Linked DNA regions of Homo sapiens: all the other regions are linked to region 1. Evidence: fine-mapped expression QTL. A gene starts in region 1. Each other region holds a variant in brackets. All regions are shown on one strand. Distances are between the middles of the regions.

Region 1 (8,190 bases):
CACACACACACACACGCACACAAAGATTTGCATTTCCTACTTACTATCTTGGACAGTAAAACTGTATTTGTTCTATGTTTAAATCCATGGGTTCTGGTCTGTGAGGTTTCAAAAAGAAGCAACTTTACTATATTTTCTTTTGGTTGTTACTAATGATTTTAGCTTAAAGATCATTAATTTTAACACTAACATCCTGCTTTTTCTCATTTGAGTTGCTCTATTTATCTCAAAGGTAGACTTTATGTATTACCATTACAAAAAAATAACTATTTGCATAATACTTTATGATTTTACGTCTATTACAAACACATCACAGGGAGCCTGAGGATTCATTCAGCAGCCTGTCATTCACCACTGCAATACCCTTCAGAACCAAACAAGAGGGAGGATGACATTTTACTAATGGCAGAAGTACAGGAATGAATGTAAATAACAAACCTTGAAGTTTTAAAAATACAAAAGAAAAAAAACAAGCAAAAAGAGGATGATGCATGAGCACAAACAAAACAGTTTCAATTTGTAAAACTCCATGTCTGCTATATATACAGCAAGGTATTTGGCAATTTACGTATTTCTATTATGGTAACCATTTAAATTATTTAAAACTATACTACAAAAATAAAGGAAATTATCATTTTTTCCTGGGTTGTATAAATTAATATTATAATAATATTAAAATTGACTATTCCTATTTATAGAATTCAGCTTTTCCTCAGCCTTGTGAAACAATCTGAATATCAATTCTCTATTACTCTAGCCTTAGCCCTACAAATATTCACATTAAGAATGCTTAAGACGCAGATAATGATATAATTTATTTAGAAATTGAGTGGTTTCATAATTTTTTGGTAAAAGAATCATAAAAACATTTTTAAGCTTCCATATTTTCTCCTATAATCATCACTCCAGATGAAATGCATGAAACACTGAATGCTCAGTTATGTCACCTTTAGTCGAAATGCCCATAGCCCTTGCAGCTTTTCATAAACAATATGCCTTTATACTATATACCTACCCCTTGAGCCATCAACTACTTAATGCTTTCAAGTGTAGTTTCAAACGCAGTTTTAACACCCTCTTGCGCGCACACACACACACACACACATACACTGAAGTGTGCAGAAAAAGGAGGAGGTGGAGAGCAGAGGAAGAAATGGAGCACGTTGTTGTTTTTCATTCATGCAGTATAGTGATGTCAGTGTCTGCAGCAGCAGTGGCAGCGGCAGGAACCTTGACCAGTGGAGGCTAAAATCCACTCAAGTCAGAACCTTACAGCATTCAAAAGAAATTGAGAAGATAATCATTCGAAAAATTAAATCAACTGTTCAGATCATGGATTTTAAATGGCTAAGGAAACAGAACAGTTTAGTAGGACAGTTTTAATTTGGGTAGTGGGGGTAAAAGGCGGGACATGGAGAAGTAACATAGGAGTAATATAATCACGGAACTGGGGGCACAGAAGCCCGCATTCAAAAATCACTGCAATGTAAGAAACTGACAAAACCACCTGGTGTTTAAAACAGCAGAAAAACATCTTTAGCAAAGAAAGCCCTTGCATTCCCAACACAAGCTCTCTGACACTGCAAATCTGTCTGCTGCACAACCAGACTCAGAAAAGTGTTTTCATCATGATTGCATTAAAATCGCATTAAACTCGTATGTGCCACACTACAACAAAGAGAATAGTTTAAGCCAGATCACAAATTTTATTAAAACTGCTTGATGATGGAGCATGTAATTCCTAGGCCATTAAGCCTTTTGAAGGATGCAGAAAAACAAGTTGTACTATTATCCGTTGTAAGATGTTAGTGTTTATATACAAAAGGGGAGGAGGTACTAGATGGCCATTATGTTGTTGCAGCAATTGCCGAAACTTCTCTTACTCACACCCACCAGACCCTCTGTACACAATCTGCAATGCTTATTTTATGCCTCTTAGTCCCTACAAGAAAATCCCAAAACTCAATTTGTGCACTGTTGAAGCGAAATCACTAAAAAATTTATGTAACTGTTTTCTGTTCGTTCTGTTACTTCTCATTTCATACAGTTCTAGAAAATGTGCAAAGGAGTTGCATATGGCATTAATCTGTTAGAAAATGGTGGCCTTTTCTATAAAATACAGCCAAAGATGTGTGTTCAGTTGTGGTCATTATTAGGGCGATCACGTTGTTTTCATTCATTCATTCAGGATTTGCTGGAGGATGTCAGTTTCTGCAGCAGCTGGCTTGACCTGGGGGAGGAGTGCAGGAGCATATTCCTCCCAATGCATACAGATTACAGGATGTATTTCTTGCTGCTCATGTACTCATCCCACTGCACTACATCCTACACTGGTTCACCATCAAGTGGTCAGAAAACAAGTGCGTTAGCAACATGCTAATTACGGGTCTGAAATATTAAAACAAAAACACCAAGACTGCAATGTATCATAATGCAGACAACCACTTTCTCCAACTCTAACACCTTCATCAAGAAAGCTCCATTAAAAAAAAAAATTCCACATACCACATAAACAATGTACAGACTTTGACAGTGTTTCCCTTCCAAGCAGAGATTTTTCCACCCAGTATGATCTGTTCCCTCCACAATGCAGCAGCAGCATCTGTAGCTCTAGTTCGGTATCTAACAATATTAGCTATTCCACTCTCCCTTATGAGCTTTAAGTCCCTGTTTTGGCTAATCTTCCTTTTCTCCCCCAGGGCTCAACTAAATCATGCACTGTGTCCCTAGACATAAACAAAACCAAAGCAAAACAGAAAACACTAAGGGAAACCCACAGCATCCACCAGCTCACCATTACCTTTGACACCTAACAAAAAAAGAAACTTGAGATCCTTGAACAGCTCAACTGAACTGTTAAGTGTACTTAAAAATGGAAGGAAAAAAACGAACACGTTCCACAAATAAGTTTTCAGAAATTTACCATGAAAATCTCCGGTAGAGCACAAACTGTTTCCAGTGCAGGAGTGCTCTGATGCATGAATATATAAAGGGGAGGGGGAGAAAGAGAGGGAGAGAGAGAGGCGGGGTGGCGGGGGGCTGGGGGAGAGGGAGAGAGGGAGGACTGAGGGAAAAAACCGTATACACTTCAATTGTACATTCAAAACTGTCCCCTCTAGCAGATATCATTACATCCAGCCGATATCCTTACATCGAAACTAATGCCACCAACCCTCTAAAAAATAAAATACTATCCCGGTAGTTACAGGCACGTTAGGAACTTTGCAGAAAAGCACAAAGAGACGGTAGAGATTACAACCGCCACCTTATCCGCTGCTGAAGAGTTTGTGTGCGTGTTAAGTGTTTCGCCCAGCTTCTCCTTCCCCGGCTACAAACGGCAAACACACGAATGAGCTAGCCAGCTCTTAAACTGAAAAACCTCTCGAAGCAGGCGAGTGATGGAAGAGAGACTCTGAGGGGCGGCATGAGGGTCAAATAAAAGTCGCTTTTCAGTTCGCTCCTCCAAGCCCCACAGCGACCGCAGGGGGGTGAGATTCCCAAAGCCACTTTCACACCTTCGATAATGCACTAGCAAAGAGAAGCCCGAAGAGGCTGAAGTTTCCACGGAGGGCACCGTCGGGGAGACGCAGCCCGGGAGGACGGGAGGGTTGGGCTCGCTACCTCTGCACACGGGCGAGCCGGGGCTCCGTCTCTCAGGTGAGCTGCTCCTCCGGTGGCTCTCTGGGGACCGTCTCGGGCGGCCCTTGGCCCGCGGCGCCTGCTCGGCCGGGGCTGCGGCCGCCGGCGGCGTCGGGCTGGACGGGCTGGGGCCGCGGGCCGCGCCGGGCCCCGGGAGGCTGCCCAGCGAGGCGGCGGCAGCGGCGACGGGCGGACGCGTGGGACTGTGCTGGCTGCCCCGCAAGAGCTGGTAGGGCACCGTGGCGCGGATGGGCTGCAGCAGCCGGCCGGCTCCCGCAGCCGGGGCGCAGCCCACGCCGCCGCCGCCGCCCGCACCGTTCCCGCTCCCGGCGGCGGCGACGGCGGGCGGGGACCCCGCGGCGCTGCGCCTCATCCTCTGCGACGGGGGATGAGGGGTCTGAGAGGAACTGGAGGAGGAGGAGGAGGAGGCAGTGGACATGGTGGCTCTGCGGGCCCTGGACGCCGCCGGCCGACACGGAGGCGCGGGGCGGGAGGCGCGCGAGCGTGTGGGAGCCGGCGCGATAGTGCGTGCGAGTGTGTAAGGGGGAGGGGCGGGGGTATCGCTGTGGGGGAGGAGTCTCGGGGCTCCCCCTCCCCAACGCACACCCCCGCCGCCTCGGCGAGGGGGGAGGGGAAGGCTGCGAAAACAAACGTCCAACGGCCGCAACCGCCCGGCTGGGCTCGGTGTGGCGGTCACGGCCGGGGCCGCAAGGAGCCCGGAGCCGCCGCCGCCACCGCTCCAGGCATCGTGCTGACAGGGCAACGGCCCGGATCACGCAGCCCCGAGGGCCGCTCGCAGCCTTCTCCTCAGCCCTCGCAGGGCTGCACGCACGGGAGAACCCGGCAGCTGCAAGGAGGGCCGGGACCCCTGCTTCTGGGGACCAGGGTAGAGAGAAAGGGCCTCGAGGTGCTGGCGCTCCTCGGAGTCCGCGCCACCGCAAACGCCGCCGCCGCCGCCGCCGCTTCTACCCACTCCTCACTCCGAATGGCAACTAATTCGCCCCAGCCGCACCCCGCCCCCGGCACCGCCTCCCAGCGCCCAGGACCCGGCAGCTGCCGCAGCGAGCATTTCCATTGGCTTAGGCGCTCCCCACTAGAACTCGAGTGATTGGTTCTGGAATAGGAGTGAGAGAAGCAGTGTCCAATGACAATGGTGCCTCCTACTTTGAAGGCGGGGCGTGAGGGGTGGCAGCGTGAGGTGGGGGCTGTGCGCGCAGGGAGGAGCGTAAAAGTTGACAGCCTTGAGGTAAGTGCGAGACTAGGAAAGTGGGACTGTGTGTGTCCTGCGCGTGTCCCGACACCCCCAGACACGCAAACGCCCCGCTAGGCAGGTTGCAGGGGCTCCACCCTCCTGGGCCGTCTGTATGACTTGAGACACAGGACACATGAGGCAAACTTTAATTTGCAAGTACACCTGCATCCGGTGGGATGTTTTAGTTAGAACCAGAAGACTGGATCTCTTTTAGTAAGCTGAGTTTTCGTGACCAGTAGCCTTATTAATCAAAAGAACTTCTGGTGATCAGGAGAAATGTCTGGAACCTGCACTGAACAAAGTAAAATACTCTTACAGCCTAACATTTGTAGTTATGCAGTGAAAAGAGATTATCAAGTTCTATGTTCCAAGACAATAACACTGAATAGCAGGGGTCAACAAGGAATTTTATGTCATTACACCATCAGTTAGATATATTAATGAAGGGCGCCCCTGGCTTTTCCGAAGCAGATAGCTTCTTGGGAGGAATAAATACCAGATGTAATGTAATAATCCATTGTGGTAAATTTGTTTTTTATTCTGTAATGAAACTGAAAGCGTACAAAGATTTTGGATGACTATCAAAAACATAAATTTACCCCACAGTAAACCAAGGTTTTAAACCTTAATCGGGAGCAATTAATGTAAGGATCTTCATCAGATAACTTTCATTAATTTTCAAGAGGTTAAAAGAGAAGCACAATGTCAAATTGGTCTGCTCGTGGTGTCTGCCCACACTGACAAGCTTCCTCTGATTTCAGGCACTATATGCAGGGGTCACTTTCACGTACAGGAGCCATCCTTCTTTTCTTCCTTGTGTGTTCAGACGAGAAAGCATACTAGGTTCAGTAAAAAAATTGATGAAACTCAATAAAAATACAAAAATTTCATGCAGTACTTCATCCAAGTAAAACTAGTGATAGTTCCTCAGTTTACCACATATTATAATAAGAGCTAACATTTATTCACCATGTGCCAGCCGCTATTCTAAGAACATTATGTGTGTTAATTCATTCAGTCCTCATATAATCCACAAGGTAGATACTATTATTATCCTTACTGTGGTCTCAGTTGTGGCATAAATAAGCTGTCTTGCCTGAGATCACATAGTTAGTATATGGGGAGCTAAAAATTTCACCCAGACAGACTGGCTCAAGAGTCTGAGGAAGCACTCTGCTATAGTACCTGGCAGCTCAAAGCTGTGGGGTACATAATCTGTAGAGTATTCACAATGGCCCACAAATCTCATCTGTGAGATAAGTTCCCATCAGTTCAAAGGAAATTTTACAAATGAAGACAGACCACTACTTTTTTTTTGTTTTCCAGAATAACATATATTTTAATTATGAATAAAAACTTTACTCTTTCAAATTTTATATAAATGGCCTATCTCATTAATTTAAAAACTGCATTATTTTGTGTGTAAAAAGAATGATAAATGATTTCTTTTCAGTGACTTTTCTCAGAATAGCAAGAACAAAAAATCTGACAGATTAAAAATATGTAAAGCTGGCTAGGTGCGGTGGCTCACGCCTGTAATCCCAGCTCCTTGGGAGGCCAAGGCAGACGGATCACTTGAGCTCAGGATTTTGAAACCAGTCTGGGCAACATGGCAAAACCCCATCTCTACTAAAAATGTAAAAATACTAGCTGGACGCGGTTAGGGAGGCTGAGGTGGGAGGATCACCTGAGCCCAAAAGGCCGGGAGATCAAGGCTGCAGTGAGCCTTGATCACACCACTGCACTCCAGCTTGGGTGACAGAATGACACCCTGTCTCAAAAAAAAAAAAAAAAAAAAAAAAAAGAAGAAGAAGAAGAAAAAAAGTTAAGATTTTTCTTTTACATGCTGGTAAATTTCTGAGTTGTTGCTTTGATTACAGCATAGTTGCATTATAGAAATGTCATCTCTAGCTACTCCTAAATATATTTATGGAACAACTTCAACACATTAGGTTACAATAATTCTAAATTTATTCTAGGTCACAATCACAATGATCAATACCTAATTTGGATCTAAAGCAACATACCTAGTCATATTTTAAGGACTTTCTGTGTTTGTTCAAATCTACCACAGCTGACTTAGACATCTAAAGCAAATCTAAATAACTCACACAGAGAAACAGAGAATTAGTATGATCTTAAAATACTATTTTCAGTTACTAGTAAGTCATTATGACCAATCTAGAAGCTCAGTCGTTTCTCTTTGCTATAGAAACCTTGGTTGTCTCTTAAACCTTTATTCTCACGACGTAAGTACTGATCTTCATATTTAAGGAATACAGGCTTCAAACAAATCAAAGGTGGCCTAAAATAAATTAAACTCAGTGCCTGCTTTCAAATGTCCATTTGTTGAGTTCTTGATAATATTTTATTCTTATTGAGGACAAAGTAAGCTCCAAGGATATATAGAAGCTTTAAGAAAATGTTCTTAGTAAATTGGAAACCCCCTAGAATGAGATGTGGATTGCTAGGCTAGAAGAGCGTTGTTATGCTACTATGCTAGCTATGGGGTAGTTAGGCCTAGTGCCGATTTTCCATACTGGTTGAATGTAAGTGTAACAATCTCTGAAAATCTTATATAAGACTTAATGTTAACAATGACCTCTTACTATGTTGTCCTGTGTAAAGAAGACAAAATTGAAGGCACAATTTGGTGGCATGAGAAATACTTCTGTATCAGTAGCCCCATGCCATGGCTATCTGTGGGACGAGGATCTGCCATTAGCTAATCTGAGGTAGAATTCTGTTCTACTTTCTTCTTAGTGCAAATATGGTAATAGACTACATTTTAGGTTAAATTAAAACTTGGAATCATTGGTTACATGCGATTTATATGCAGCCCTATGTGGAGAGATCATAAGATGAAGAAGCCACAGAGCCCACAGAGCTACCAAAACCTTCCTCTTCTAGCTCCATCTGGGTTTGCCTGGCTGAGCATCCAAGGCCCATCCAAATCTGAGAGGCAGTCCAGGCTGTCAGTATTTGCAATGAGGTCATGGCTGGGAGAGAACACTAAACAGATCTGCACTGATGTTCATCTTAAGCTGATTAAACTCTCTTGTAGATTGATTCCTAATAGCAACAACAACAAAAAAGCCTTGACTGAATTTTTGTCCCTGGCAGATGCTTAAATTAAACTCCTTACTGCTTGTGACAGCCTACGTGCACCTTTGCACTAGGTGTTCCCTCTGCCTGAAAGGTTCTTGCCCAGATATCCACATGGCTTGCTCACTCATTTCCATCAGGTCTTTACTCAAATGTCACCACCTTTATGATGAGAGCTTTCCTGAACACTTTTT
Region 2 (8,190 bases), 100 kb before region 1:
GGCAGGAGAGTGACATGATTATACTTTCTCATAATAAAATTGATTATACATATTTAGGAAAAAGAGCTATTATATATTAAAGAACATGCACTGTTTGAAACTTATGATGTAAGTGAAGACCTGTGAACTACAGAAACCACTATTCACTGGGAGGCCCTGAAGGCAATCTCACAACCAGTTAACCAAAATGGAACTCATTTACCATCCTCTCAATACATTTTCTTTTTGGTTCAGCATCTCTCAATTATCCACAGTATTAAAGAAAACAGAACTCCAGACTTAACTGTCTAGCTGTACTGCCACCATTATTTCTACTTTTCATTTTTACCCCAGTTACAAGTGTTAAGTAGCAAAAGTGGCCAACCTGAACTGTACTTAATAACAAAGAATATGAGTTTGGAATGAAGACAGACTGGTTTCTCCATTTACCACCTACACAACCTAAAACAAGTTACTATTATTTATCATTTCCATTTACCTTCAAAACAAACACTCCTACTGGAAGCAAGATGTTTTATTGTGAAACATCCACATTAAAAGGTTGTGAGGAAGTGATTAAAGGTGTTTATTCTCACAGGATGCTTCAGTGAAATGAAAATTTCCTAGTCTGACATTTTAAGAAATGGAGACTTCCCACATGAAGCCAAAGACACCTGGTACTATATTCAATATATCCTTAATGAAGGAAGGGGGTCCACAAGGCCTTCAGTAATGAAAGAGTCAACAAGAAAGGGGAGAACTGTTAAGATCTACCCACATAGAAAAGCAGAGGACAAAGTCCAAAGTAGCTTCCATTTAATATCTTAGAAGAGTTAGGTATAATGATAAGTAAAAGAAGTCAGACACAAAGAATATATACCACATTATTCAATTTCTATGAAGTCTAGTAACAGGGGAAATTAAATTATAGTGATGGAAGTCAGCAAAGTGGTTACTTTCAAGTGGAGAGAGGAAGGATACTATTTGGGAAGAGGCGCAAGGGAGCCTTGTGGGATAATAAAAATCTTCTATATCTATACTTGATGTAGGTAGTGGTTTCAGGAGCACACACATATGTAAAAATTCATTTGGCTGAGCACTTATGATCTGGGCATTTTACTTACAACAATACATCAATCATAGGGGATGGGGTCAATTCAGAACAAGGACCATAAAACTCCTGCAAGATTTTATAAACTGTCTAACTTTTTATAGTTTTACAATTTTGTTGCCATTGACCTATTTCTCTATGGTGACAAGCAGTAAATTTGTTATAAACATAAGTTCAGTGTTTCTTTGTAAGTAGCTAGGAAGGAAGAAGCTGGGCAGTCTATATGGCCTTCTGTAGCTAGGTCTTAGGGGGCTAGAAACAGAAAGAACCCAGGAAGTGTTGGTGTACACAAGTAGACACAAGGATAGAAGAACATGGAGAGACAGTTGGGCTTGATAGGAAATAAGAATCCCAGATGTTCTCAACAGTTAATAATTTATCTACATACTGTAATAAAATCCCTGATGTCCTGTAGATACTCACTAAGCTTTATAAACTTGGTTAAAAATACACTCACTTTTTCCAACAGAATTTTTAGAAATTATTTCCTCGCAAATCAATCTGATTATAAAATCTAACTTTAAGCTTGATTTTACCATGGTAAAGCTAACTTTACCATAACCATCATCCGCTCTGGACAATACCAAGGAAAAGACCTATGCATTATATGAAGTTGTACACACTCCATTTTATGGCTTTTATTAGCTGTTAGAACCATGCGCTGTGCTTCTCTGACACATTTATGGAAGATGTTTGTTAGAGTCACAAAAAAGGGGGTATGTGAAACCAATGAACAAAGAAACCTAGATTAACCAATCTTTGACAATGTCACCATTGAACAAAAGAAAAAAAAAAAGATGTAATGGTCTAAGACAAGGTATAATGAGCAAGGCCCATAACAAACCCTCTAAGTGGACAATTCCATTCTTACCTTTATCACGATCATAGAGCAAATCTTCTGTTGAGCAAGGGCTACCATCCTGGGATTCCGGGGGACAAAAAGGGGAGACACAGGGTGAATGACTGCTGCAGCTACTGCTGCGCTCCTGGACAGAAGGAGTCTGAGTGTCAATGCTGCGAGTACTACTGCTCCGGTAATGAGCAGGAAGTGGAGCTCTTCGACCATCTGGTATGTCCAACGGCTGTAAGAGGAATACCATTAAACATCCAAATGCTGGTGCATATATTCATCTACATAGAAAGCACATAGTATTTCCCTTGATTTCATATTCCACCACTACTGACCCAGTTTATTCTTCAAAGGCTAAAGACCAAGCTTGTGTCTTAAGCTAATTTCTGCGTATGTTACCTTTATTGAACTAAACATTTCTTTTAAATCAAATTGTTTGCCTTAAAAATTCCATAGCTCACTGTATGTACCTGTAGGTCAGCACATCCCACAAAACTCTTCAAGGACAGCGGGAGTCCTGTGCCTGGCACTACTCCTGGCACATGGCAGATATTCAGTAAACATTTGCTGAAAGAATTAACAAAGCTAAAAAAAAAATCACTTTGACTTGCTTGTAAGAAAAAGTGAAATCTCATATTCCTCATATTCACAGGTACAGATTTTTCTGTTTGTTCATTCCTTCCTAGTTTAATTTTTAGAGGTTATGAACAGAACCATAGTTTCTATTTCCTTTGCAAATTATCCAAAATTTCTAATAAAGAGGTTTATTCTATTAGTACTCAATAGAGTTTATTAATGTAACTCAAAAGAATTCTAATATTAGAAGAATTTGGATATCAAATTCTACTAACTCAGTATCCAACTAAGTAGGACTACTCATAATCTTCCTTAGTTTGAATACTTTGTTCTCAGTAGCAAAAAGAAGGAAAAAAAGGAAACCATCATCATAGAGCCACATATTTTGGTCTTGAGGGTACCTCAGAGCTCACTGGTCCATTGTTTTGTTTTCACAAATGAGGAACCTATAGTTCAGTGGCACAGCTAATTAAGTGGCATCAGAGATTCTGCTGCAGTGGACTCTTTCTACTTTACTACTCTGCTTCTGTAAAAATAGATCTTACTCCATATTCTTCATTTGTGTGCTAACAAAGTGAGGTTAACAAGTAAAATTCTCTATATTAAGTTATATAATTGAAAATATTTGTTGTTATTAAACACACAGGACTGCAGTGCTAGGGAAAAGAACCAATATGCTGTTAA[T/C]TTATTTATAATTTATTTTCACTATTTATTGTGTCTACTGCTCTTACTCTGATCATTGTCATTTCAGAGATTTTAGAAAAACTGTCAAGAGGGGAAATGAAGGAAGGTAAAATCAGGTGAAATTCAAAATGTATCAATATTTTCTATACCAAACAAGTGAAGGCCGAAATCTGAAACTATGCAAATGAAAACTTCATTTAGAGTTCTGCCCCTGCTGCCCTTGGAGTAGAGAAGAAACAGAGAGGCCGAGGGCTTTACTTGCACTGCTAGCATGACATACTCACCATACAGAGAGGAGCCCATGTCCTCCCTGTGAGCCCTCGGCACCCCACCTTTCACCCGGTGGGGCTCCCGGCTCAGGCCAGCAGCACAGCTGCCCCACCCCCTGGCTGAACATCCCAGTAGCAACGGATCTGTGTTTCTGCAGTGGAGCTCCCAGAGGCAACCGAAAGCCCCTCTGCCACTGCCACTGCAGTGGTACTGCCCTTGCTACCCTTGTACTAGGAAAGGAGCAAAGACCCAGAGTGCTTTAACCACACCTCCAGCAAGCTGCCACGGCCCTAAGAAGAGGTCAGTCTGTCTCCCCCAGGATCCCCCCAGCTTGAGCCCACAACGCAGCTGTCCTACTCAAAGCCAATCACACCGACTGGCAGCAGTTCTGCTATTTCTCTGGGGTGGACCCCAGAGACAAGGGAAAGGCCCTCTGCCATAGCCACTGCCAAGGTCCCTTCCCCTGCTGCCTCCAAGCTGGGAGAGAACATAAAGCCTTAGCTCACCCCAGGGCTGCAGCCTGGGAGTGCCAAGCCAAGATCTGCAGCCAGCACTTGAGTAGGAGAGGAGCCCACACTTTCAGAGCACTGACAGGGAGCGCAGCTGCAATAGTGAGGAAATACAGAAGAGCCACGTGGCTGAGCAAGAGCTTACCTACTGGCCATTACGCTTAAGAGGCATCAAACTTCAATCAGAGTGCAAACTTCAATACTGAAAATACTTAGTTAATAAACCCTCCTGTGAAACTAAGGACAATAAGTCAGCTACAAATAAAAACCTTGTACAATGCCTCAGACTCTAAAAACATCCCGAAAAGTCAACCGACTGTACAAATTATACCATGGTTGAAGGAACATCAGCCCACACAGGTGAGAAAGAACCAGTGCAAGAACTCTGGCAACTCAGAAAGCCACAGCGTCTTCTTTCCTCCCACTGACCACATTAGTTACCCAACAAAGGTTCTTAAACAGGTTGGAATGGCTGAAATGACAGAAAGAATTCATAATATAGAAATGAAGGTCATCAAGATTCAGAAGAAAGCAAAAACCCAATCCAAGGAATCTAATGATTACCATAAAATAATACAGGAGCTGATTGATGAAATGGCCATTGTAAGAAGGAACCAAACTGATCAGAGAGTTGAAAAACACACTATGAGACTTTCATAATGCAATCCCAAATATTAATAGCAGAATAGACCAAGCTGAGGAAAGAATCTCAGAGCTTGAAGACTGGTTCTCTGAACTAAGACGAAATTTTTTTTTTCTTTTCTGAGATGGAGTTTTGCTCTTGTTGCCAGGATGGAGTGCAATGGCACAATCTCGGCTCACTGCAACCTCCGCCTCCTGGGTTCAAGAGATTCTCCTGCCTCAGCCTCCTGAGTAGCTGGGATTATAGGTGCCCACCACGATGACCGGCTAATGTTTTGTATTTTTAGTAGAGATGGGGTTTCACCACGTTGGCCAGGTTGGTCTTGAACTTCTGACCTCAGGTGATCCTGCCTTGGCCTCCCAAAGTGCTAGGATTATAGGCATGAGCCACCGTGCCTAGCCAAAATTTTTTTTAAAAAGAATAAAAAAGAATGAACAAAGCCTCTGAGAAATACTATGTAAAGAGACTAAATCCACGATGCACTGGCATCCCTAAAAATGATGAGGAGAAAGCAAGCAACTTAGAAACCAGATTTCAGGATACCGTCCATGAAAACTTCCCCACCCACACTAAAGAGGCCAACATTCAAATTCAGGAAATGCAGAGAACCCCTGCAAAATACTACACAAGAGGACCATTCCCAAGATACATAATCATCAGATTCTCCAAGGTTGGAATGAAAGAAAAAATGTTAAAGGCAGCTGGAGAGAATAGGCAGGTCACCCACCTACAAAGGGAACCCCATGAGGCCAACAGAAGACCTTTCAGCAGAAATCTGGCAAGCCAAAAGAGATTGGAGCCTATTCCAAGCGAGAAGTGGCTATCTAGTCAAACTAAGCTACATAAGCACAGGACAAATAAGATCCTTTTCAGACAAGCAAATGGTAAGAGAATTCATTACTACCAGACCTGCCTTACAAGAGGTCCTGAAAGGACTGCTAAATCTGGAAAGGAAAGAACGTTATCAGCCACTACAAAAACACAATTAAGTACACAGAACAGTGACACTATAAAGCAACTACACAATTAAGTCTGCAAAGTAACCAGCTAACAACACAATGAAGGATCATGTACATATCAATATTAACCTTGAATGTAAATGGATTAAATGTCCTAATTAAAAGGTGCAAACTGGCAAGCTGCATAAAGAAGCAAGACTAAACAGTAGGCGTCTTTAAGAGACCAGGCTCACATGCAAAGACACCCATGCGGTCAAAATAAAGGGATGGAGAAAAATCTACCAACCAAATGGAACACTGAAAAAAAGCAAGATTGCTATTCTAATTTCAGACAAAACAGACTTTATACCAACAAATATCAAAAAAGACAAGGTCAGTATATAATGGTAAAGGATTCAATGCAACAGGAAGACCTAACTATCCTAAATATATATGCACCCAACACAGGGGCACCCAGATTCATAAAACAAGTTCTCAGAGACCTACAAAGAGACTTCGATGTCCATAAAATAATAGTGGGAGACTTCAACACCCGACTGCCAGTATTAGCCAGATCACTGAGGTAGAAAATTAATGGAGATGTTCAGGACCTGAACTCAACACTTGACCAAATGAACTGAATAGACATCTACAGAACTCTTCAACCCAAAACAATAGAATATACATTCTTCTCATTACCACATGGCACATAATATAAAAACAACCACACGAATGGACATAAAACAATCCTCTACAAATTCAAAAAAACTGAAATCATGCCAACCACACTCTTGGACCACAGTACAATAAAAATTGAAATCAATACTAAGAAAATTGCTGAAAACCATATAATTACATGGAAATTAAACAACCTGCTCCTGAATGGCATTTGCGTAAACCATGAAATTAAGGCAGAAATCAAGAAATTCTTTGAAACTATGGGACTAAAGATACAACATACTAGATTCTATGGGACACAGCTAAAGCAGTGTTAAGAGGGAAATTTACAAGCTCTAAAGGTCCACATAAAAATCCGATCTCAGATAACAAACTAACATCACATATAGAGGGACTAGAGAAACAAGAGCAAACTAACTCCAAAGCTAGCAGAAGACAAGAAATAACAAAAATAAAATCAGAGCTGACCTGAAAGAAACTGAGATGCAAAAAACCATAAAAGATTAACGAATCCCTGCATTAATTCTTTGAAAGAATGAGAGAGACTGCTAGCTAGACTAATAAAGAAAAAAAGATCCAAATAAACAAAATCAGAAATGACAAAGGGGACAGTACCACTGACTCCACAGAAATATTAAAAAACCCTCAGAGACTACTATGAACACCTCTGTGCATACAAGCTAGAAAATACAGAAAAAAACAGGTAAATTCCTGGAAACATACAAACTCCCAAGACTGAACCAGGAAGAGAGAATCCCTGAATGGAACAATAATGGTTCTGAAATTGAGTCAGTAATAAAAAGCCTACCAACCAGAAAGAGCCCTGAACCACATGGATCCACAGCCAAATTCTACTAGCTGTATAAAGAAGAGCTAGTACCATTCCTACTGAAACTATTCAAAAAAATTGAGGGGGAGGGACTTCTCCTTAACTAATTCTATAAGGATAACATCATCCTGATACTAAAACTTGGCAGAGACATGACGATGACAACAAAAACTTCAGGTGAATATCCTTGATAAAAATAGATGCAAAAATCCTCAACAAAATACTAGCAAACCAAATCCAGCAGCAGATCAAAAAGTGAATCCACCATGACTAAGCAGACTTTATCCCTGGGATGCAATGTTGGTTCAACATATGCATATCAATAAATGTGATTCATCAAATAGAACTAAAAACGGAAACCACATAATTATCTTAATAGATACAGAAAGGGCTTTCAATAAAATCCAACATCCCTTCATGTTAAAAACCTCCAACAAACTAGGCACTGAAGGAACATACTTCAAGATAAGAAGAGCCATCCAAGAAAAACCCACAGCCAACGTCATACTGAATGGGCAAAAACTGGAAGCATTCCCTTGAAAACTGTAATGAAACAAGAATGCCCTCTCACCACTCCTGTTCAACATAGTACTGGAAGTCCTGGCTGGAGCAATGAGGCAAGAGAAAGAAATAAAAGACAGCCACAAATAGGAAGAGTAAAGGCACATGATCCCTGGTTTTAGACAATATGATTCTATACCTAGAAAATCCCATAGTCTCTACCCAAAAGCTCCTTGATCTGATAAACAACTTCAGCAAAGTTTTAAGAAACAAAACATACAAAAATCAGTAGTGTTTCTATATACTAACAATATCGAAGCTGAGAGACAAATACAGAACACAATCACATTCACAATAGCTTAGGAATACAGCTATCCAAGGAAGGGAAAGATCTCTAGAATGAGAATTACAAACCACTGCTCAATGAAATTAGAAATGACAGTATCAGATAGAAAAACATTCCATGCTCATGAATAGGAAGTATAAATATTGTTAAAATGGCCACACTGGCCAGGCGCGGTGGCTCACGCTCATAATCCCAGCACTTTAGGGGGGCCGAGGTGGGCAGATCACGCGGTCAGGAGATCGAGACCATCCTGGCCAACACAGTGAAACCCCGTCT
Region 3 (8,190 bases), 130 kb after region 1:
TGAAATCTGAGCCATGATCGTGCCATTGCACTCCAGCCTTGGCGACAGAGCAACACCTGGCCTCAAAAAAAAAAAAAAAAAAGATCACTTGTTATATTGACAGTTCGTAGCTATAATTCCTTGCATTCTTCAGTGGAACCACATCTTCGGGAGTCACTAAAGTACCCACAAGTACACATTAGCTTTAAATAGTACTGTTTACCCGACTCATAATACTCCTTTTGCAGAGAAGGGAGTAAGAGTGTATACATGCACACGAAGTAATTTGGGAATGTAAAATAAAATATTAGAATGTTATATGTTTAATCCCTGTCTCCTCTTCCCAATCCCAACCCTGGCACAGGTACACTGAAACACAACTAAAAGGCTCTAAGGTTCCTATTGGCAGGAAAATAGCAACCAGCTGTCTTAGCCTTTAGGTTTTTGACATAAGAAAAGAAGGTACCCAACTCCTAACCTGCTGGCTTCTGACAAGTGCAGACTGCTAAGCCAGGCTATGATGGAGTACAACTCCTCCAAGCTTCACAACAACTGTAGAACGTCAATTCAGAATATTGCTAACTTCTAGCTTTTTTGCCAAACTTTATTAGGAACTTTCCTTGATGATCATCTAAAACTAGTGCTTTTTAACCTTCTGTGAAGAACCTTTGATAAAACATCTGGAGACTTTCCCCAGGATAATGCTGCTGCTATTGCCACTGTCAATAATAATGATGATGACAATAATAACAAAAATAAAAAGAGCTACCATTAATTGAGTGCACACTATATACAATAAATTGTGCTAAGTGCTGTTCAAGTAGTCGGGGATCCTCTGAATCAATCCTCCTTCCTCCCATAGTCCCCCAGTCTACAACAGTTCTCTCTACTGCTTCTTTTATTGGCTTGGCAATGCCAACATTCACGTAGCTACGTGAACCTAAATGCACGCTACAATCACTCAGGGAGCTCTTTTAAAATATAAATTCCCGAGAAACCACACCCAGAGATCCTGATTTAATTGGTCTGGGGTGGGGCCGGGGCATCAATATTCTATGAAAGTCCCTCAGATTATTCTGATGTGCAGTCGGGGTTGAAGACCACGAGCATATACAACCCATCCAACACTTCATCCTCTCAGTTCCATGTCCTCCAAAATCCTTTTCTTTCAACCGAGCTGGGTATTCCCATGATCATCTTAGACCCTGACACTAACAACTACACTAACCCCAGAACCCTATTTACCTAACAATCTGCCTCACATACTCTGGAAGCTACACTCTGCCAATTTTGTGACCTGCCCTGCCCCCCAAAATGGGGGGTCCATTTTTGCACTGTCTAGGTCACCATCATGTCTATTCTTTCTTCATCCAGCTTGAATTCTCTGTTTCATCATTGTATACACCCCAATTCCATTGCCTGTTTGTTCCGACCATGTTTTCAGCTAGCAAAACCTCAACCTCAGTTAAGCCCAATTTTCTGCCAACTGCAAACCTGCAGGCACTTGAGCAGCTGGATATGAGTTGGAGGAAAGCACAGAATCATGATGACTAGTTTCATTTTAAATTTATGGTCATAAATCTCTAGATGTGATCTTCATCTTCCCACAAACAAACCTACCAACCTACATGCAACTGTAACATATATTCTTCCCCAATCCCCATTAAACTTGTCAACTTGACCCTAAGGCCAAACCACTCATTTGTAGATTGCATTGCTTCTTAAGAACTTTGTTCTTGAAACTACCTTCTCTTCTTCCTTATTATGACTTTTCCCCCTCTCTCCCGGATCATTCCTATTAGCATTCGAACATGCTATTGTAAGTCCTATTTACAAAGAAACCCTTTTACTCCTGTCTCCCTCCAACCTACTGTTCTATTGCTCTGCTCTCGTGTACAGCAAGAGTAAAAAGGCTCAAAAAAAAGTGTTCATCTGGCCGGGTTTGGTGGCCGAGGCAAGAGAAGGGCTTGAGCCCCGGAGTTCAAGATCCGTCTGGGCAACATAGGGGGACCCTATGTGTACAAATAATTTTTTTTTAAATTAGCCTGGCATGATGGCATGTGTCTGTGGTCCCAGCTTGGGGGAGGCTGAGGCAGGAGGACTGGCAGAGCCCAGGAGATTGAGGCAGCAGTGAGCCATGATTATGCACCTGCCTTCCAGAACGGGTGATGACAGAGCAAGACCCAGTCTCAAAAAACAAAAAAAGTGCCCACCCTTGCTGTTTCCATACTTCCTTACTCCATCCCCACTGTGTAATTTATTTCATTTATTAAACAATGACGAGATACTATAATATGTGTAAGGCATAAAGAATAAAATACAACAATCAGCTGTGTTTCACCACCCAATTTAAGGAACAGAACATTACCAGGAACTCTGGAGTCTGCTCTCACTCCCATCTATTCCTTTTCCTCCCCTGCTAGAAAGTAAATGCTAATCTGAATTTTGCGTTTATTCTTGTTTTGCTCTTCTTTATAGCTACATGACAAATATATAGATCAATATATCTATATATTTCTCTCTAAATAATATATCGGATAGCTTTGCATGTTTTGAATTTCATAATTGTATTTATTCTTCTGTGGTTTGCTTTATTCTCTTAAAACTATGTTAAGATTCATCCATACTGCTATGTGAAGCAGTTTTAAATCTATTTTCATATCCTTAAGAGTATTTCATTTGTGAATAAACATTATTTATTTATTCATTCTGTGGATGATGGATATTTGTGTTGTTTCTAGCTTCTTCTACCATGAATAGCACTGTGATCATTCTTGTATGTCTATCAGTGTACAAGAGTTCATCCAGAGCATATGACCAGGAATGAACTTGCTGGATCATGAAAGAATCACGTATTTAATGAAGAAATGCCAGATTATTGCTAAAAGTGGTTTTACTAATTGTATTAGTTGACTGGATAATGTTGATTGTAAGATAATAATCTTTTACCATTTATTGATATTTGCTCTATGGTCCTGTATGCTTCTTATTTTCATAAATCTTCCATGCATCCTTGAGAAGAATGTCTCTTCCATACGTGTATGGTCAATATCAACCTTATTAACTCTGTTGCTCAAATCATGTATTCCCTCACTAATTTTTACTCTCTATTTCAGAGGTCAACAAACTATACCCTGTGGACTCAATCTGTTTAGCCTGTTGTTGTATGGCCCAATGAGCTAAGTATGGTGCAAAGAGGAATACACAAAACAGACTATATGCGCCCTGCAAGGCCTAAAATATTTATCTGGCCTCTCTTTCAGAAAATGTTTGCTGATCCCTGGTTTATTCAATAAATCAATTACTAAAAGAAGTAGATTCCAACCTCCAATTCTGATGACATTTTTTCTTTTTATCCTTGTGTTTCTGTCCATTTTTTACTTTATATAATTTTAGTCTGTTATTGGGGGCATACAACATTAGAAGTGTCATATTTTCCTGGTGAAATGAATCTTTTACCATTATCTTGTGACCCTCTATCTCTGGTAACACCTTTTGCCTTAAAGTTCATTCCACCTATATTTGTAGTTATGTCACCCTATTTCTCAAAACCTTTACGTACCCTTATGTAGGGTTTTCACGTAAACCACAGTACTGTATTTAGATTTTTAAAGCTAGTCTATCTTTTGAATTTAATCTAATAAACTGTGCTTTTTAACAGGAAAATTTAATTTACATATAGTATAGTAACTGATATATTCA[C/A]ATTTGTTCTATCATCTTGTTATGCTTCGTCTCCCTTTCTTTTTCTCTTCTTTTTTTAACTGCTTTTGGGTTGACTAACTTTTTTTGTTCCTTTTTAAATCTCCACTAGTTTAGAGTTATACTATTTCTTTTCTTTAGTGAATACCCTAGAAATGTTAACATGCATACTTAGTCAGTGGCTTTTGTTTTTGTTTTAACCAACTTCCTACATAAAGCAAGGACTTTAGAATGCTTTCACTCTAATCACTTCTCTACGGAGTTGTTGGCTATAAGCCATTACATTATTGTTTCACCAATCAATTTTAGTTTAGATTTATTCTCATATAAACCACTTTCTTAGTTCGTCATTCCCTCTTGTAGGTCACATCTTCCATCTGGGATCATTTTCCTTCAGCCTGACGTACATCACTTAGAATTTCCTTTAGAGAGAGTCTCTTGCTGCATATTCACTCAGGTTTTATATATCTGAAAAAAATTATTTTGCCCTTAATCTTCAAATTTTTGCTGAACATGGACTTCTAGATTGAGTTATATTTTCTCACCACTTTGAAGATATTATTTGACTGCCTTTGGATCCAGTGCTGTTACTGACAAATCAGCTTTAGTTCTGTTAATTCCTTTAAGGCAGTCTTTTAAGGTCATTTTGTTTGTCTTTGGTGTTATACTGAGTCACTATTATATGTCTAATGTGGATTTCTTTCATTTATTCTTCTTTGTGTTTGGGGGGCTTTCTAAATCTGAAGACAGATTTTTTTTTTTTAATAGTTTTGGAAAATTCCTAGCTCCTAATTTTCATATATTGTCCCTGCCCCATTCCCTGACCTTGTCTCTCCATTAAGATGGATGTTAGACACACCTCTTCATTATATCCTTCATGCTACTATTATGCATTTCTATGTCTCTCTGTGTTACATTCTGAGTAATCCTTCAGATCTGTTTTCTAGCCTATAAAATCTCTCTTTGCTTATGTCTAATATACTCTTTAACCTATGCATTGAATAACTGTTTTTAATTTCTAATGTTCTATTTTTTCCCAAATACACTTAATTTTTAATTCTCATGATCATTATAATATTTTAAGTTTGCCTTTTATTTATTTAAATATAGTAAACATATTTAGTTTGTGTTATATGAGATATACCAATATCTGAGACCTTTGCAGATCTGACTCTGTAACCTGTTTTTGCTAACTCTCACTTGGCCTTGAGACACACCTATCTTGATACATAGTAAATTTCTAAACTTCAAAGGTATAAAAAATAAATTATAGCATGAAACAGAAAAGATAAAACATATTCCCTACTAATGAAGAAAAATCAGGTTGGCCAGAAAACCATAGAGTGATCATTTTGAGCAAACCAAAGATTATAACATAAGACTTTTATAGCTAGTAAAATTACTGTTCCTTTGTAAAGACCATAGAAAACCACTTTTAAATATCCAAGAGCTTAAGAATATACTGAAGACATTTATAAAGTAATATGTAAACACGTTTACCACTAAAATTAAGAAATTCAGAAAGGTTAAATTATTGTACACAAATTGACAGTAAGCATTAAAAGCTGTTAAATATGGAAGTCGGTATAATTATTGTAGCTAAGAAAACCTATTAAGTACAGTTAATACAATTAATTAAATGGAATCTTTAAGACTATATTAATAAAGACCATAAAATAGCAAGACCGTGGATGATTAAATTTCTCATGTTACAGGAAGAAAGCAAAAGATATAATTGTTTGATTTGATAAAAAGGCAAAATTTAGATTAGAGAATGTTTTCAGTGAATGTAAAAATATCCACTTATGTAAATAAAAATAACATCATCTTCCAAACCAATTGAGAAGAAAACAAGCAAATAAAGCAAGATATTACTCATAACTAAATGGAACTAAAAACTAAATAGACTACAAACTAAATGGAAACAAAACCTCAGAAAACCTAAAATAAGATAACTGATGTAAGATCATACACATATCAGCTATTTCAGTAAATGTAATTGTTTTAAATCCCTTTATTAACTGACAAATAATCTCCACTGCTACTTAAAGGCCTTTTATCATGATGTTTATCATGTTAGCATACTATTGTGTTTTCTTCATAGCACTTACTACTATTAGAATTATTTTATTTATTGTACAATTTCCCACACTAGAAAATAAACTTCCCAAGAAAGGACCACGGCTGTCCTGCTCACTTCTATATATTGCTAAGAGCTAAAAAAAAAAAAAAAAAAAAAAAAAAAAAAAAAAAAAAGTGCTGTTTCAATGAGTGAATGAATGAATGAAAATCACAGAGCAAGATTTTTTTTTAAAGCAAAAAAAAAAAAAAGAAAGCAGAAGTTACAATGAAAATGTCATATAAAAGTGACAGCAAAATGCTTTTAGAATACATAAAGACATTTTTGCTGTTGATAAAAGATAAAACCTATAATGGAATTTAAGTCACAAATCTTGCTTCAAATAACAAGATCAAGATACACACAAAACAATAAAAAAGCAGAAATACAGACAGAAAATGATAGAATTACAATGATGAGTGACTAATATACTTCTCATAGTCTTTGACAGATTAAGTGAATAAAACATAATAGGATCAATGATATGGTTTGGCTCTGTGTTTCCACCCAAATCTCACCTCGAACTGTAAACCCCATCTATTGAGAGAAGTGATTAGATCACGGGGGCAGTCTCCCCCATGCTGTTCTTGTGATAGTGAGTTCTCAAGAGATCTGATTTTTTTAAAATGTGTGGCTTCCTTTGCTTTCTCTCTCTCTTCTGCTTCACAGTGGGAAGACATGCCTTACTTCCCCTTCGCCTTCTGCCCTGATTGTAAGTGTCCTGAAAAATAATTGGTAGTATCTCCCTGAATTACAAGCTCACTGTCTGCTATGGACTAATTGTGTATCTCTTCCTCTACCCTACACACCCCCACCCATACGTTCAATTCATATGTTGAAGCCCTAACTGCCGATGTGATGGTATTTGAAGATCAGGTGTTTAGGGAGATAATTAGGGTAAGAGAAATTCATAAGGGTAGGGCCCTCATGATGGGATTTGTGGCTTTATAGGAAGAAGAGGGAGAGAGTTCTTTCTCTGCCTGTGAAGACACAGCAAGAAGGTGGCCATCTGCAAGCCATGAAGGGGTTCTTCATCAGGAACCGAATTGGCCAGAATCTTGATCTTAGACTTACCAGCCTCCAGAACCATGAGAAAAATAAATGTCTGTTGTTTAAGTCACCCAGTCTATGGTATTTTGTTACAGCAGCCTGAGCAGACTGAGACAGTGTCCAATGACATGGTGGAGTGCAGTCTAAAAATATAAAAAGCCTGGGAAATAGGATAGGAAATTTATGGATGACAGATCATATCAGGTTATCTAGAAATGTTAGGGATAGGCCAGGCATGGTGGCTCATGCCTATAATCTCAGCACTTTGGGAGGCTGAGGCGGGTGGATCACCTGAGATCAGGAGTTCGAGACCAGCCTGGCCAACATGGTGAAACCCCGCCTCTAATAAAAAATACAAAATTTATCCAGGCGTGGTGGTGGGTGCCTGTAATCCCAGCTACTCAGGAAGCTGAGGCAGGAGAATCACTTGACCCCAGAGGCAGAGTTTGCAGTGAGCTGAGATCACGCCATTGCACTCCAGCCTGGGTGACAGAGCAAGACTCCGTCTCAAAAAAAAAAAAAAAAAAAAAAAAGAAAAGAAAAAGAAAGAAATGTTAGGGATACTTGGGTAGATCTCCACATTCTTGAGACTGATGACATGATAGGTTACCCACGGAATCTCCTTGGAAACCAGTGCTTGACAGAATAAGATGGGAAGCAGACTTTTGTAAGATTAGATAGGAGAATACTGTTCCTCTCTGGCATCTTCATTTCAAGTATTTCAAATAAAACCTGAAAAAGTAACCACCATGTTCTGGCTGCTATTCCATGATTAAAGACATACATAGAACTATGGTTTTGTATATTTAGCATATATGTGTAGTTTTTCTAATTCGTTTTTCACAGTGTAAAGGTTAATAGGCTCCAGTAACTATATTTCCTATCCTGCCATCTTTGCCTATTTGTGTAAATGTGCCATAGTATGGTAATTACCAAGAGTTATTCTCTGAAATCTGCCCGCTTCCTGACAACCTATTTTAATTGAAGGTACTTACCTCTTTCTTCCCAGTCATGTTGACCACCTGCACTCTGTAGAGTACTTACTACAGTCTGCAGACAGAAGCACCTTTCTTATGTCTACAGCTTGTTCTAAATTCCTAAAAGTTAACAACTGTACTTTGCCCATCTCTGAATCCCCCTCGGTGGTCACATGTCAGGATAGTTGCCGATATCAAGAAATACTAACACCACAGTATGCCTCATGTGTGTAGTAACTCTCTTTTTCACTCCCAATGCCAACAGTCCAGAGATGACTCTGGTCTTAATTTCCACAACGTTGCTGAGTGTATCTGTTCTCCTGTAGTCTGTTCCACTGCAGTTCATCTGGCATGGTGAGGCCTGCC

Evidence for each region.
Region 2: its variant is fine-mapped to the expression of GLCCI1 in prefrontal cortex (ROSMAP, PIP 0.95).
Region 3: its variant is fine-mapped to the expression of GLCCI1 in whole blood (TOPMed, PIP above 0.99).

The regions. Positions count from the first base shown.
Region 1 is chr7:7,965,239-7,973,428 of GRCh38, reverse strand. GLCCI1 (glucocorticoid induced 1) reads right to left here and starts at 4,633. Exons shown (of 8, transcript NM_138426.4): 1 at 3,622-4,633. The coding sequence starts at 4,078. It overlaps GLCCI1-DT (GLCCI1 divergent transcript), which reads left to right and starts at 4,677. Exons shown (of 5, transcript NR_110018.1): 1 at 4,677-4,885. RefSeq lists an enhancer at 3,171-3,260 and silencers at 3,741-3,820, 3,911-3,970, 4,051-4,450, 4,661-4,810.
Region 2 is chr7:8,064,903-8,073,092 of GRCh38, reverse strand. It overlaps GLCCI1 (glucocorticoid induced 1), which reads right to left. Exons shown (of 8, transcript NM_138426.4): 6 at 1,962-2,172. Among named protein-coding and RNA genes, the nearest start is that of GLCCI1, 100 kb to the right of the region's middle. The variant T/C (reference allele first, on the strand shown) is at 3,201.
Region 3 is chr7:7,833,207-7,841,396 of GRCh38, reverse strand. All of the region lies in intron 3 of UMAD1 (UBAP1-MVB12-associated (UMA) domain containing 1), which reads right to left. Among named protein-coding and RNA genes, the nearest start is that of RPA3, 120 kb to the right of the region's middle. The variant C/A (reference allele first, on the strand shown) is at 3,682.